2 separate regions of the Homo sapiens genome follow, and region 2 is linked to region 1. The links come from fine-mapping of genetic effects on gene expression. A gene starts in region 1. The other region holds a variant in brackets. All regions are shown on one strand. Distances are between the middles of the regions. Region 1 holds the start of CAPN11 (calpain 11). Region 2 holds the start of LOC105375072 (a long non-coding RNA gene).

Evidence for each region. PIP is the estimated chance that this variant, and not a neighbour inherited with it, causes the effect.
Region 2: its variant is fine-mapped to the expression of CAPN11 in esophagus muscle (GTEx, PIP 0.96).

What each region holds. Positions count from the first base shown.
Region 1 is chr6:44,155,504-44,163,831 of GRCh38, forward strand. CAPN11 (calpain 11) reads left to right here and starts at 3,317. Exons shown (of 23, transcript NM_007058.4): 1 at 3,317-3,361. The coding sequence starts at 3,346. It overlaps TMEM63B (transmembrane protein 63B), which reads left to right. Exons shown (of 24, transcript NM_018426.3): 24 at 1-16. LOC107986599 (a long non-coding RNA gene) reads right to left here and starts at 3,100. Exons shown (of 3, transcript XR_002956350.2): 1 at 3,082-3,100. RefSeq lists an enhancer at 4,494-4,663 and a silencer at 6,047-6,136.
Region 2 is chr6:44,181,971-44,190,298 of GRCh38, forward strand. It overlaps CAPN11 (calpain 11), which reads left to right. Exons shown (of 23, transcript NM_007058.4): 20 at 971-1,049; 21 at 1,149-1,265; 22 at 1,735-1,793; 23 at 1,936-2,431. The coding sequence ends at 1,962. It overlaps LOC105375072 (a long non-coding RNA gene), which reads left to right and starts at 4,013. Exons shown (of 3, transcript XR_926835.2): 1 at 4,013-4,088; 2 at 4,838-4,910; 3 at 7,739-7,971. The variant G/C (reference allele first, on the strand shown) is at 4,824.

The DNA of each region.
Region 1 (8,328 bases):
CAAAGAAAAGCTCTGAGGCAGGTGTCTGACTTGTGCTGCCCTGGGCACCTGGGCCGGGTCCCCACCCTCCTATCTGGAGGGCCTCTTTGAGGTCCCTGCATGACGCTGGGCAAGGGACTTGTTCAGAGTCTCATTTCTGTGTCACTGAGAGGAGAGAGTGGGGCTGGGGAGAGACTTAAGGGATATCTCAGAGGCAGGAAGGGCCCCTGTGCCCAGGTGGCCACCATACCAGCCTCGCCCACTCTGATCATTCCCCTGAGTCCCTGAGCAACACACATGGGACAGAGATTCAGGGAGAAAAGGTCGTGCAAAGCCACAGGGTCCATGCTGGGCCAGGACGAAGGCCCTTCTGAGCACCTCAAAGTAAGCCTGGCGCCAGCCCATCTGTCCCTTCCCCAGGAGGGCCTGATCTCCTCAATGAGAAGCCCCCTCCCACCCTCCAGTCAAATCTTACCCATTCTCCAAGACCCAGCTCAAATTCACCTTCTCGCCAGGCGCGGTGGCTCACGCCTGTAATCCCAGTACTTTGGGAGGCCAAGGTGGGTGGATCACTTGAGTTCAGGAGTTCGAGACCAGCCTGGCCAACATGATGAAACCCCATCTCTACAAAAAATACAGAAATTAGCTGGGCATGGTGGTGCACCCCTGTAATCCCAGCTACTTGGGAGGCTGAGGCATGAGAATCACTTGAACCTGGGAGGTGGAGGCTGCAGTGAGCTGAGATCATGCCACTGCACTCCAGCCTGGGCGACAGGGCAAGACCCTGTCTCAAAAAAAAACAAAAAAAAATCACCTCGAAAAAAGGTCCTGTGACTGCTGTAGCCCACCCTGCAAAGGCCCACAGAGCCATGTGGTGCACACCCACACACATGCACACACAGCATGTACTGCATGTACTGTAGGAGGCCTGCATTCCAGTCCTTATTCTGTCACTAAATCACTTTGCAACCCTGAAGAAAAGGAAGAAAAAGGAACTCTTAGAGGGAAGAAAAGAGACCTCAGAGGAGGAGGAGAACCAGGTTCCACAAAAGTCAACAGGAACCACCAACAGCAGGAACAGCAAACACAGCAAGCCTGATAAAGATTGCCCAGGCGCCAGCAAGGAGCAGGAGCAAAGAGCGCCCAAGGTCCAGCCCCAGGCTGCAGGGAGCTGCGGCAAACACAGCTTGGAGGGTCAGTGTTTATGGGCGGGCTGTGGGTGGAGGATGGGCCAGTGACAGTGGAGGTGAAAGTTGAGGCCTTGGTCCTGGCCTCAGCCTGCATATGTATGTCAGATCTGCAGTTGTGAAACATGAGCTCCCAGGTAGAGTCCCCAAAGTCTTGGGGCCAAGGGAGTGCCTGCTGGTGGTTGGACAAATATTGGCATGGCTTTGAAAGGAGCACCTTGGTTGTGTGAAGGCTTCTCGGTGCTCCCGAAGCCTGTTTTCCGTATGGATGGGCAGGCACACCACCGCCATTTGCCTGGCAAGCCCCCTTGTCTGCAAAGCATGGCCTGGACAGACCTCAGCCCCCACCTCTGGTTAGCCGAGACCCTCTCATTCCTCATCTGCCCAGCATGCCTTCCCTTTCCTGCAGGGCCTGAAGTTCAAAGCCAGGTTCCAGCATTTCCAAATGTGAAACTCCAGATAATGCCCAAGCAGCACACTGAGCAAGAGTCCTGAGGACAGCCCTCCCCCAGGGTGGGAGGCTGTAATAGAGAGGAACACCCGTGCCTGCCTGCACCCTACCCCTGGCACCTCGTCACAGAGTTCATGTCCAGGCAGATCACATTAGAGGCATCCAAGAGGTGCAATAGTGGAATCAGGAGTGGGCAGGGGAGACCACAGGATCCCCAAAGACCACTTCCTCCTTTCACAGCTGGGGGCAGCAGAAGATACGGATAAGAGCTAAAGTTATGGCCGGGCACGGTGGCTTATGCCTATAATCCTAGCGCTTTGGGAGGCCGAAGCGAGTGATCACCTGAGGTCAGGAGTTCGAGACCAGCCTGCCCAACATGGCGAAACCCCGTCTCTACTAAAAATACAAAAATTAGCTGGGCATGGTGGTGGGCACCTGTAATCCCAGCTACTTGAGAGGCTGAGGCAGGAGAATCGCTTGAACCCGGGGGGCAGAGGTTGCAGTGAGCTGAGATTGCACCACTTCACTCCAGCCTGGGCAAAAGAGCGAGACTCCATCTCAAAAAAAAAAAAAAAAAAAAAAATCTGAAGTTATTAGTTTAAATCCTGGCTCGACCGCTTAACAGCTGTGTGACCCTGGGCAAGTTGCATCATACCTCTAGACCTCACTTTCCTCATCTATAAAATGGGAATAGCAATGTCATGGCCTCTGGCTGTTTTAAGGATTAAATAAGTAGGAAGTTCTTAGCCCAGTGTTTGGCACATAATAACAAACCATAATTAATATTCTCGTAGATGAGGAGATTGAGTCCCAGAAAGGAGAAAGGGGGAGGGCTCGCCCAAGGTCAGCTCCTGTTTCAGAGCTTGGAACAAGGTTCTCTGATCCCATTGGGTGCTCTCACACCTGTTCTGTGCCTGATTAGCACCAGGCAGGGCTGAGGGGCACTGGGATGACCTTGACAGTCCCTGTCCTCAGCCATCATACACTCCAGAGAAGACTGCACTCTGGAGCAGAGTTCTTAGCTCAAAGCATTCCCACTTTCCAGTGCAGAGGCAGGACATGTGGTCAGACCAGTGGCCTAACCTTGCCAGACTGGGGCTAGGCAAGGAGAGTGTTGCAGGTGGAATCGTGTCCCCCAAAAAGGCATGTTGAAGTCCTGGCCCCCAGTACTTCAGAATGTGACCTCATTTGGAAACAGGGTGGTTGCAGATGTAATTCGTTCAATTAAGATGAGGTCATACTGAAATGCATGGGACCCTAGCCCCATATGACTGGTGTCCTTATAAGAAGAAGAGACACAGAGGAGGGTGCCATGTGAAGACAGCAACACAGGAAAAATGCCATGTCAGTGAGAAAGGGGCTTTTGGGAATGAGAAGGCTTTCTGGATGTAAAGGTCAGGTTGGTGTGTCAGGGACAACCCCTTCCTGGAAACCTTGGGCTGAAAAAAAGGGACTGGGACCTACCCTGATGGGATGACCGTGATACAGTGAGGACAGCCAGGCTGGTGGAGGCTGTGCAAGGCAGGGGTGCTGGGTCATCTGTCCCTAAAGCGGGTAGCCCTCAGCTGGGTAAGGGGCTGGGTTACTGAGAAGGAGAAAAGGGAAGGCAGCTGTTAAACCGGCTGCTGACCTAGGAATCCCACTGCAATGAGAGAGTTCTGGGGGGAGGGTCTCTTCTCCCCCTCCCACCAGAACCTTCAACTGTCAAGCACCGAGCTAGCCACCAGCATGCTGTACTCCCCAGGTAGGCACTCATGGGGCCTTGCCCCACTCCTGTACCTCCTGCAGGCTAGAGCCTCCCCCCAGGGGAGGAGCTGTGTCCCGCATCAGACTGGGTGCCCCTTGAGGGTACAGAGAGTGACTCTTCCATCAGACTGGATGCCCCTTGAGGGTACAGAGAGTGACTCTTCCATCAGACTGGATGCTCCCTAAGGACAGGACCTGGGCCTCGTTCTCAGACTGTTTGGGGAAGGATAGGCCACTGGTGGTCAGACTGGGTGGTAGGCCGGGCAGGAACTCTTTCTCCTCTCCACTGACAGTTGGAGTTGGGGAGAGGAGAGGGGCCGGCCATCCCACTGTCATGGCTGCTGGGGAAAAGGGTTTGTGTGAAAAAGCCCACGTAGAGAAGAAAACTTTAGGGAACAGAGAGAACCTCTCCTAAGCCTAGAAAAGCAGGTCCCTCAGCCCAGGAAGATGAGATCCTCAGGGTGGCAGGGGCAGGACTACCTGAGGCAAGCCTGGGACCAGACTCCAGGAGATGGGGGAGAGTGGGCTGGGGGGAAGGGGAGGGCTGGGCAGAACTGAGTTGTTCCTGTGGGGCTAGGGTGCACAGAGGGCAGCCAGCCTTGGCCAGCAGAAGGTCAGCCCTGTACCTCACCCTCAGCCTGGGGCACCGTGAGACCATGGGCCCCTAGACCCAGCCTCCCAGCTTCTCAGGCCCTCCCTGTTTACCTGACCCTAGGAAGTTTAGGCCTAGCTGGTGACCCCAAACCCAGTCCTTGTTCTTCAGAAGTGCCCTGAGCCCAGGAGTTCAAGACCAGCCTGGTCAGCATAGCAAGACCTCATCTCAAAATATAATTTATTTATTTATTATTATTACTTATTAGTATTTATTTTTTTTTAAAGTTCCCTGACACAACATCTTAGTTTTTTCCCAGTGCCGGAAATCAAACTGTCCTTAAATCTATAGTCCCCTAATAACAATGTATTGCATTTAGAAAATCACTGAGAGAGGCCAGGCACAGTGGTTCACGCCTGTAATCCTAGCACTCTGGGAGGCCAAGGCAGGTGGATCATCTGAGGTCAGGAGTTCGAGACCAGCCTGGCCAACATAGTGAAACCGTGTCTCTACTAAAATACAAAAATTAGCCATGCGTGGTGGCGGGCGCCTGTAATCCCAGCTACTCGGGAGGCTGAGGCAGGAGAATCTCTTGAACCCAGCAAGTGGAGGTTGCAGTGAGCCGAGATCGTGCCACCGCACCCCAAGCCTGGGCGACACAGCGAGACTCCATCTCAAAAAAAAAAGAAAATCACTGACAGTAGATTTTAAGTGTTCTCACCACAAACAAATAACAAGTATGTGCAGTAATGCAGATATTAATTAGCTCAACTGAGCCATTCCACAGTGAATACATATTTCAAAACACCATGTCGTATACAACAGATATATACTTTTTTTGTCAATAAAATAAAACTGATTTAGTTAAAAACGATCTGGCCGGGCGCAGTGGCTCACGCCTGTAATCCCAGCACTTTGGGAGGCCGTGGCGGGCAGATCACGAAGTCAGGAGATCGGGACCATCTTGGCTAACGCGGTGAAACCCTGTCTCTACTAAAAATACAAAAAATAAGCCAGGCGTGGTGGCGGGCGCCTGTAGTCCCAGCTACTCGGGAGGCTGAGGCAGGAGAATAGCGTGAACCCAGAAGGTGGAGCTTGCAGTGAGCCAAGATCGCTCCACTGCACTCCAGCCTGGGCGACAGAGTGAGACTCCGCCTCAAAAAAAACCTCAAAAAACAACAACAACAACAACAACAAAATGATCTGTAGGTTCTCAGTCTGATGGAGGAGACAGGATGTGCAGCTGCAGCAGAAAGCTTCCTGTCCATTCATGCCTTTTAACATGCAGCAGCCCCTGCTTTCCACGCAGTTTCAGTTACCCGCTGTCAACTGCAGTCTGAAAACATCAGGATATTTTGAGACAGAGAGACCACATTCACATTACTGTTATTGTATTGTTGTATTTGTTATATTTTATTACTTATTATGGTTAACTGCTTACTGTGCCTAATTTATAAACTAAACTTTATCATAGGTATGTACATAAAGGAAAGACATAGTATTGATATATACAGGGTTTGGTACCACCCGCAGTTTCAGGTGTCCACTGGGGGTGTTGGAACGTACCCCTAGGGTTAAGGGGAGCTACTGTGTTGCTCTGGCCATCTGTCTGTGCTTCCCACAGGCAGCCTTGGTCTGTCTGTCTCAGCCTTCTCACGCTCCTAGCCCATGTGACAGCTTGGATCTTTTGCCCTCTCTAAGGGGATATTTTCTTTTGGGTTTTTTTTTTTTTTGGTGTTTTTGTTTGTTTGTTTGTTTTGAGGTGGAGTCTCACTCTATTGCCCAGGCTGGAGTGCAGTGGCCCAACCTTGGCTCACTGCAACCTCCACCTCCCGGGTTCAAGCGATTCTCCTGCCTCAGCCTCCTGAATAGCTGGGACTACAGGCATGTGCTACCACACCCAACTCATTTTTGTGTTCTTAGTAGAGACGGGGTTTCACCATGTTGGCCAGGCGGGTCTTGAACTCCTGACTTCAGGTGATCCGCCCACCTCAGCCTCTCAAAGTGCTGGGATTACAGGCGTGAGCCACAGTGCCCAACTTAAAGACATTTTCCATGACAACTGTGGTGGTGTGGATAGGTGTGTCAGTCCTTCCTGCAAGTCAGAGCTGAGTAATGACCTCACACCCTGGGGACTGGGTATGCAGCTTCGAAGCAGGGTTTGGGGGCCAGACAGTGAGAAATGACTTGTTGGGCTGGATGGTGACTAGGGGACAGAGGGCTCTGGGGAAATGAGACAAGGGAGTTAAGATGGAACCTGAATTGCCTTGGCCTGCCCTCTGATGTTCTTTCAGTCTTCTCAAACAACAGCATCTTCCCTGGTCCTTCCAGGCCCCCAGGAGAGCTCAACACCCTCAGTCCTCGGAGCAGCCAGGGTAGAGGCTGCCTGGAGTGACTGCACGGTGCAAGGGCATGGAGTGGTTTGCCTTATCGTGTGAATGACCTTAGATGATTCGCTCAACCCAGGTTTGTCAACCCCAGCTCTCTTGACATTTTGAACTGGAAAATTCTTTATTGTGGAGACTTTCCTCTACACTGAGGGGCGCCCAGCAGCATCCCTGGCCTCTACTTACTAGATGCCAGTAGCTCCCCTGAGACCTGCCCCAGTTATGACAACCAACACTGCCTCTAGACGTTGCCACCTGTTCCCTGGGGGCCGTAATCACCCCGGGTTGAGAACTTCTGACTCAATCTCTCTGTGGAGGCCCTGGCTTCCACCCAGCTCAGATGGGAATAGTCATCCTGATCCGCCAGCTTCACAGATAGGGATCAGGGGCTGAAACAGAAGGTGTTCAGCTCTCCCCTCTCAGGACTGCTTTCCACCCTTCCCTCGGAACCCTCTTCATCTGAAAGGGGCTCCACTGTTTAACCCCGCCCCCGCAGCCCCCCTCACAGTCTCTTTGAATAAAGACACACACACACACACACACACACACACACACACACACACACCTGTAATCATAGCCCGAGGGGGTGAGGGAGCTTCCATTACCATTTCTAAGATAATCCCAGAGGGCTTGGGTTAGAAGAGACAGGGTTTGAGGAAAATGGAGGGAGAAAAGAGCGAGGAGAACTCCCAGACTCTGGCTCTACCCACCCTCTTCCCTGCTTCCCAGCCCTGATGCTTCCAGAACCAGGACGTCAAAGTGCACCCCACCCTCAGGGGAATGGGATGTGCTTAGAATAGGGAAAGGGGGATAGTCATTCCCCCACAGAACCTCCCTGATGATCCCATCAACCTGGTGGCCCCTTTTCATGGCACTTTCTCCTGTCTTTGCGGCCCATGGAGCTGAACCTGGGGGAGGAATCGCATGGGAGGGTCTTCTCCACGCTCCATGTTGGGGGTGCATTCACTTTGACCCCTCAGTACCAGCCCAGAATAAATTCTCCATAAAACATGCCTAACACGAGTTAGGGTTTGCTCTCAGGAGCTCAAACCAGTGGCAAAGACAGACAAGCACACACATGACTCCAATATTGGAGTAATATCACTAGTATCATTAAATCCTATGATGGAGGGACACATATGTGACACAGAGCATGGGCCATGTGATCCTAGAAGGAGCTCAACAAATACCAGTTGACCAACTAGGTCAGTGGGGAGAAGGTGAGTAACGTTTTCTGAGCACCTGCTAAACTCCAGTCTTTTTCACACGTTGCATTCTTCAATCCTGAAACACCCTCGCAGGTAGAATGCAGCAGCCTCTATACACAGGTGAGGAAACCAAGGCTCAGGGAGGTCAAACAACTTGCCCAAGGTCACACAGCTAATTCTCTGGCTCCAGTGCAGCCCAGGGCATTAGCTCTGCTAAAAAGGGACAAGCCACCCCTTTTCCAACACCTTTATCCATCCTCAACACCCCCTGTCAGCTGCTCCACACAGGGGAAGTGACTTCACAAAGACCACACACAAGTTGCAGTACAATGGACGAAGGGGCCGCACCAAGGCCAGTTGACTCACTCATCCCTCTCCAGCACAGCCATGGCTCCTCACCATGGCGACCTCCCAGCAAGGCAGCGAGCCTGATGGCTGAGAGCATAGAGCAGCCTGCCCTGACTCTAATGCCCACCGAGTCTGAGGAATTTCAGCCTCTCTCTGCCTCAGTTTCTCTGTCTATAGCAGGGAAGTTATAAGAGTAAGCCTAACCAGTGGGGTTGTTGGGATGATTCAATCAGCTAATGCACATCGGGTGTTTAGAATAGTGCCAGACATGTAGTGAGCCCTCAAACGCTGCTAACTATTATTATTTTTAGAAATGCTATATAAGTGCTCACTACTCATAACTGAGGCAGGATTCCTAATATCTTCTCATCACAAGTTACAGGCTCTGTGGAGAAGCAAAATTCAGGATCCTGAGTCTCCTCAACCTTAT
Region 2 (8,328 bases), 26 kb after region 1:
ACTCACATACAGACACAACCACACCACACTCACACACACACATACACACTCACATACAGACACAACCACACCACACACACACATACAGACACAACCACACCACACACACACACACATACACACTCACATACAGACACAACCACACCACACACACACACACATACACACTCACATACAGACACAACCACACCACACTCACACACACATACACACTCACATACAGACACAACCACACCACACTCACACACACACATACACACTCACATACAGACACAACCACACCACACACACACACACATACAGACACAACCACACCACACACACACACACACACACACACACTCACATACAGACACAACCACACCACACACACACATGAAAAGGGTCTGTTGGAGTGTGGCATATTACCCAGTCAAAATATTTTATAACAAGTATAGCTCAGGTATCATCTAGTCATGAAGGATGCACACAAAGAGCGCTGGGCAGGGCACCAGTGCCCCCGACAACCCATGCTTGGAATTAACCCTTAGGTCACCAGATGATAGGAATATCAGGAGTGGGCCAGGGTTGGAGGGGGGCATGGGGTCTTAGGCCACTGCTGTGAGCCAACTGTCCTAAAGTATTTCTTTTTCTTTTTTTTGAGACGGAATCTCACTCTGTTGCCCAGGCTGGAGTGCAGTGGTGCGATCTCTGCTTACTGTAACCTCCGCCTCCTGCCTCAGCCTCCTGACTAGCTGGGATTACAGGCATGCACCACCACACCCAGCTAATTTTTGTAGTTTTATTAGAGACGGGGTTTCGTCATGTTGGCCAGGCTGGTCTCAAACTCCTGACCTCAGATGATCCGCCTGCCTCGGCCTTTCAAAGTGCTGGGATTACAGGCATGAGCCACCGCGCCCGGCCTCAGTATTTCATTATTTCAACCACCATGCCATGCATGTGGCCCTACCATATCTGTCTGTCTCTTCAGGACATCTTCAGAGAGTGTGACCAGGACCATTCAGGCACCTTGAACTCCTATGAGATGCGCCTGGTTATTGAGAAAGCAGGTGGCCAAGGGTCAGGAGTGGGCCTTGGGGCAGGGAAGAGGATGGCAGTGTCCAGAGGCCCAGACTTTTCCCCTCCCCACTTCTCTCTCCCTCTCTCAGGCATCAAGCTGAACAACAAGGTAATGCAGGTCCTGGTGGCCAGGTATGCAGATGATGACCTGATCATAGACTTTGACAGCTTCATCAGCTGTTTCCTGAGGCTAAAGACCATGTTCAGTGAGTTAGGCATCTACCCACTCCCCAGCCTAGGCCAGGGGCCGCGGGCCCTTTCCCAAACACCCACCCTGATGGGTGCTGCTCCAGATCCCCTCCCCCTTACAAGGCACACATGAAATGGATTCAAAGCCCAGCTCCGCCACTTGCTGGCAGAGGTGACTTGAGCAAGTCACTTAATCTTTCTGTGCCTCCATTCCCTCCTCTTTAGAATGTGGATAATAATAGTACTGCCCTCAAAGGACTGAGGTGCAGGTTAAACCAGTTAGTCTATGGAAGGCAATCAGAACTGGGCCTGGCTCCTGGTGAGGCTATGTGAGTTGCTATCATTAATTCCCCACTTGGCTAGGGGATTTATGTGGGGAACAGCCAGGAACACCTGGTGTCGCCCCTTCCTACCTAGTTGGGAGTGGTTCTTTCGGAACACTGACTTAGCATTCAGCCCCTCTCCCCCGCTTCCTCTGTAACGCAGCATTCTTTCTAACCATGGACCCCAAGAATACTGGCCATATTTGCTTGAGCCTGGAACAGGTACTTGGAGAAGGGTGGGAAGGAATCTGCAGGATTGCACCTGCCTGCCCCTCAACCCCACCCCCACCCAGCTCTGATGTCCCCGGGCCAGCATCCTGCCCCCGTCTCTTCCCACCCTGGGATCTGCTTCCTGTCTCCACAGTGGCTGCAGATGACCATGTGGGGATAGAGGCGCTGTAGGAGCCTGGTCATCTCTACCAGCAGCAGCAGCAGCGAGGTTCTAGCCCAGGAGGGTGGGGTGCTTCTTGTAGCCCTCAGCTCTCCGGTCTCTGCTGATGAAATGGGCTCCAGGTGGCAGTGCCCGGGTCCCAGGTGCCGTGTTTACTGCAGCAGTGGGACCTCCGTGCCCACTCCCCCAGCTCAGAGGCTTTCTCTTTTTTCCCCAACCCGGCTTCTGATGGCTGGCTTTCCCCCACCATCGCTCTCTCAGAGTATATTTTACTAAAGAGTAGTTGATGCTTCCCCAGGGTCCCCCTGGCTGGGGAGGCCAAGAATAGGGAAGGGACTTGTAGCCCGTTTCTTACCCTCCATGCTTGCTGTCCTGCTCACACCTACCTGCTGACCACCCATCCTGGCACAGCCTCTGTTTTCCTCCCCATCTGTGGATACTATTCTAATAAATAGCACATGCCATTGGCTTCCATGTCTCTGTGTTTTTATGCCAAGAAAAGACTGGCAAGGGTGGAAGTCACTTACCCAGGACCAAAGGATTGGGTAGCTCTCAGCCAAGGGTGATAGGGAGCATATAGAAATGTGCAGTTGTCACAATAACTAGAGGCCATAGTTGGCGTTTATGGGCAGTGCCAGATGCTAAGCACACAAGTCCCTCCCTGTGAAGAACTGTGTGGTGTGCCCTATGGTGGAGCGCTTCTACGGGGGCTGAGCCAGGGCTCCAGGACTCTCATCTGCTGCTTCAAACTGGGGTCCCCAAAGGTGGCACTGCAGGAGCCTCGAAGGTTAAAAATCTGACACCTGCAGCCAGCAGGTCACATAAATGAACGAACTGCCGGGCGCGGTGGCTCACGCCTGTAATCCCAGCACTCTGGGAGGCCAACGCAGGTGGATCACCTGAGGTCAGGAGTTTGAGACCACCCTGGCCAACATGGCAAAACTCCGTCTCTGCTAAAAATACAAAACTTAGCTGGCCGTAGTGGCACGCGCCTATAATCCCAGCTACTTGGGAGGCTGAGGCAGGAGAACTGCTTGAACCTGGGGGGTGGAGGTTGCAGTGAGACAAGATCATACCACTTCACTCCAGCCTGGGTGACAGAGCAAGACTCTGTCTCAAAAACAATTTAAATAAATAAATGAACAAATCCTCCTCGTGTGGGACTGGGAAGGCTGAGGACTGTGGCAATAGGTGAACTCGTTCCTGCCTTAAAGGTGTTCAGATTCAAATCATTATTATTATTGTTAGAAATTTGTTGCCTGTCCACTTACTAAAACCTCCCTTAACTATCCTCCACCTTATCCAGAGAAGCTTCTTCTTTTAGAAAATCAAGCAAAGCAACTAAGTCAAGACATGTTAAAAAAAAAAAAAGTATGAAAAGAAAGCTGTAAGGAAATACAAGGGGAGGGATTGTTAGATATGAGTTCTAAATTTCTTTTCAAAGAATTAATATGTCAGTATGTTCAATTCTTTGCCTTCTATTTTTAAACTTCACTTCCTCGTAAAGCAACCTTTTCAATTACCTATTCCACCCTGACTCATTCCGATCACCTGCTCCACCCTAATTTATTCCAATCACCTGCTACCTGCTCTGCCCTGACTCCCACCAAAGCACTCACCCTGTCAGTCTCTTTAAATTAGTCAATCAGAATTAGTTTAGCCTGTGCGGTCTAACCCTAGCCAATAGGGGAACGACACAGCAGCAGGGGCCACGTGCATCAGGGATAAGAACCCCTTCCCCTCCCTTGTCCAAATGTGTGCTCACCATTGTTCCATCTATAAGGGCGCACGCTTCTATATAGAAGTAACTTGCCTTGCTGAGAATTAAAAAGAAAATTAAAAAAAAAAAAGAAATTTGTTGCTTGTCAAGCTACTGTCCTTGCAGGAGGCATGGAAGAAACACTTATTTCTGGGTCCACCTGTTTTTGACCTCGGGGTCTCTGTCCCAGGTGCCCACACCCCAACTCCAGCCCCAGCCCCCTGCAGTAGTGAGAACACCCAGGCCACTCACAGCAGCCCCTAAACTGTACTTCTCCTCCTGTCCTTCCAGAGCCCTCCACAGCCTCCCCTTCTGGTTTCTGGCAGGGACACTGGAGCCCAAGCACATGCGCTTCTCAGCCTCTCAGGTAGAGACAGCACCCCCAACTTCCCCTAGATTAGAGATCTGTCATCCCCAATGAAGCTAAACCCTTCCTGTCTCTGTGTACCTGTGCAGCTTCCTGGGGTCGCTAGCTTCCTTCCACGTGCACTAAACCCAGCCCTTGTGTGCTTAGTGAGGCAGGTGGGATTCTGATCTTCCTTAATCTGGTGACTGATTGTCTGCACCAGCCCTGGCCCCTGCCTTCTTTGTGACTTCAAAGACTAAAGCTAGTCTGCCTGGATATAAAGCCGCCTTCCCTCCATTATCACCACCCCACGCCGCCTTCAGAGGAATCGTTTCCTGTCCTGTCAGCCCTCCCTGCTTCCTCTCCGTCTCCAGTCCTGCCTGAAAGAATAGGTCACACTCTCTTTGGAGCCTCTTTGAAAGACTGTTCTCCCACTTGTCGTCCTCCCTCTCTCTCTAAGAGATGGCAGCCACCACCTGCTCTCCACAGAGCTTCTCTGAGTGATGAGCAAAAGTCCCCAGAGAGAGCAGGGAGAGGTCAGTGAGAGCCTCAAGCTAACAGGTCCATGCTGGGCATGGTGGCACATGCCTGTAATCCCAGCTACTCGGGAGGCTGAGGAGTTTGAGACCAGCCTGGGCAACACGGGGACTCCATCTTTTAAAAACAAAAACCTAGCAGGTCCTTTGAGACTCTGAGAGGTCCCGGGCAGTCCGGATTGGTTCTGGGAACCCTAGGAAGATGCTGACCCCACCTCTT[G/C]TTCCATGGCCTAGGGTGAAATGCTGCCAACTTCAAGCCAGGATGGAAAGGAAGCAGAAAACTCTCAAATCAGGACTATCCCTTCCGGTTTGTAACAAAGCTGGTTACTCACGAACACTCTGTAAACATAAAATGAAGCAAACTTCACATAAGTAGAGAGTTTATTTGGGCTAAACTTAAGGATTGTAACCCTGGAGAATAGATTCAAATTATTCTGAATATACATCCCGATTAGCAGCAGTTACAAGTGGATTTTTAGGCTGGGTACAGTGGCTCACACCTATAACCCCAGCACTTTGTGAGGCTGAGGTGGGCAGATCACTTGAGGCCAGAAATTCAAGACCAGCCTGGCCAACATGGTGAAACCCCATCTCTACTAAAAATACAAAAAATAGCCAGGCGTGGTGGCACACGGCTGTAGTCACAGCTACTCGGGAGGCTGAGGCATAAGAATCGCTTGAACCCGGGAGGCGGAGGTTGCAGTGAGCTGAGATTGTGCCACTGCACTCCAGCCTGGGTGACAGAGTGAGACTATCTCAAAAAAAGAAAAGAAAAAGTTAGCCAGGACTGGTGGCGCACACATGTGGTCCCAGCTGTGTGGGGAGCTGAAGTGGGAGGATCACTTGAGTCCAGGAGGTCGAGGCTGCAGTGAAATGTGATCATGCCAATGCACTCCTGCCTGGGTGACGGAGCGAGGCCTTGTCTCAAAAAACAAAAAGGTTTTTGTTTTGTTTTGTTTTGGGGTGTGTGTGTGTGTGTGTGTGTGTGTGTGTCAGGGCCTCTCTTTGTCACCCGGCTGGAGTGCAGTGGCACAGTTTTGGCTTACTATAACCTCTGCCTCCCGGGCTCAGGTGATCCTCCTGCCTCAGCCTCCTGAGTAGCTGGGACTACAGGTGCACATCACCATGCATGGCTAATTTTTGTATTTTTAGTAGACACAGGGTTTCACCATGTTGGCCAGGTTAGCCTCAAACTACTGACCTCAAGTAATCTGCCCCACCGCCCACCCCCCCGAGCCTCCCAAAGTGCTGAGATTAAAGTCATGAGCCACTGTGCCCGGCCCAAAATGCATTTTTAAAGGTAAAAAAGGGCTGGGCATAGTGGCTCACGCCTGTAATCCCAGCACCTTGGGAGGCCGAGGCAGGCCGATCACGAGGTCAGGAGTTCTAACCTGCCCAACATGGCGAAACCCCGTCTCTACTAAAAATACAAAAAATTAGCCAGGTGTGGTGGTGGGCACCTGTAATCCCAGCTACTTGGGAGGCTGAGGCAGGAGAATTGCTTGAACCCGGGAGATGGAGGTTGCAGTGAGCCAAGATTGCGCCATTGTACTCCAGCCAGGGTGAGAGCGTGAGACTCCGTCTCAAAAAACAAAAAAGAAAAGAAAAGAAAGGTAAAAAAGGAGGACAGTGAGTGGAATGATACAAAGTTATTTGTTAGGAATTCTCACCGGTTTTCAGAAATAACATTGATTAGTTATTGGCTATAGTGTCTGGTGTCCCATTATTAGGATAATTTATAGCTACCTGTAGAAGTAGCAAGCAGTTTCAAGAGATGAATACATAACTTAAAGGGGAGTGCAGGGTATAGGGTGCAATTGTGTGTCATGTTACTGTCTCTCTGGGTCTGATAATTAAAAGGATTTGCATTCCTCAGATAAAAGTTATTTTTATTTTATTTATTTTTATTTTTTTGAGACAGAGTCTCTCTCTGTCGCCCAGGCTGGAGTTCAGTGGCGCGATCTCAGCTCACTGCAACCTCCGCCTCCCAGGTTCAAGCGATTCCCAGGCCTCAGTCTCCCAAGAAGCTGGATTACAGGCACCTGCCACCTCACCAAATAAAAGTTATTTTCTTTTCCCAACAATTTGCATAGTGGCTTAAGGTGAAGATTCACGAGCTATGTGTCTTTGGGCAAATTATTTTACCTTTCTAACAGAGTATCCTTTTGAATCTGTCAATTAGAGGTGACAATTCCTATCTCAGAGGGCTGTTGTATGGACAACTGCGATAATGAAAGTGAAGCACTTAGGCATATCATTCTTTTTTAAAAAAACTTTGATATTATCTATAATAGTAAAAAAATAAAAAAAACAAATTTTCAATTGTGAACATGTTATAGCCAGGAGTGGTGTGGGTCATGCCTATAGTCCTAGTTACTCGGGAGGCTGAGGCAGGAAAATTGCTTGAGCCCAGGAGTTCAAGGCTGCAGAGAACTCTGATCAAACCACTGCATTCCAGCCTGGGCAACAGAGGGAGATTCTGTCTCAAAAATAAATAAATAAATACACATTAGATGTTACACACGATAAAATATCAAGCCATTGAACTAAATAACACAAATGGCATGAGGGTTATGACATACAGTTGAATAAGCAAGATGCATATTAGATTTACAATAGTCCTTGACATTAGTGTTTACCATTTGCTTGCATTAAATATTATTAGCAATGGCTATATACAATGTTATTTAAAATTTGGAAAATGAGGCACACCATTCTTCTAGTCCCTTCAGGCTCCATTTCCATCCAACTTCACTGCAACTCCATCCCAGCTCAGCCTTAGTGCCCTGGGAGGCCATTCCCACTATGTCCTTGCTGTCTCCAAGGGACCTGTAACCACAGGCAGGCAGCCCATACTTTCTAGTCCCTTTTAGTCCTCTGCTCATAAAACCAGGTGGCTGAGTTTTGCTGGGAATGGGCACTAAACCATGCTGCCTGCATCCTCCTGATTCATGCTGGTTGACCTCGATGGAGGCCACGTGGCAAGCTAGATTTCTTCTCCTGATGACTGACTGCCATTCTCCACACCCACTGCCCTGATTTCCCCCAGACCTCTCACTACAGCCTTCATTTTTACTGCAAAGAATGAGGCTACATCAGAGAAACAGCCTCAACCCCACTTCTCTTCTCCCTCAGAATATCTTCGCAGCTTCATCCTCTGGTCTCTGAGAAAATTGGGTCCCAAATGTGCTTGAAAACCATGGAATGCCATGCAACAGAAGCAGCAGACTAGATGCCACCCAGCCACAGCTGTAGAGCCTGAGAAGATGCTGAGTGAAGAAAAAGTAAAGCAGGATGAGCTCATTAGCTTCTTTTGTTTTTTTGTGGTTGCTTTTTGTTTGTTTTGTTTAGGTACAGGGTCTCCCTCTGTCGCCCAGGCTGCAGTGCAGTGGTACAATCATGGCTCACTGCAGCCTTGAACTCCTGGGCTCAGGTGATCTTTCTGCCTCACTCTGCCATGTAGCTGGGACTATGGGTGCACGCCAACATGGCCAGCTTTTTTTTTTTTTTAATTTTTTGTAAAGACAGTCTCACTGTGTTGCCCAGGCTGGTCTCGAACTCCTGGGCTCAAATGATCTTCTTGCCTTGACCTCCCGAAGTATTGAGATTACAGGCATGAGCAACTGTGCCTAGCCCAATAGCTAGCTTATTTTTAAAAGCAATTTTAAAATATATATCTTGGAGATATTTTTCTATTAGTATATAGAGAGCTTCCTTTTTTTTTT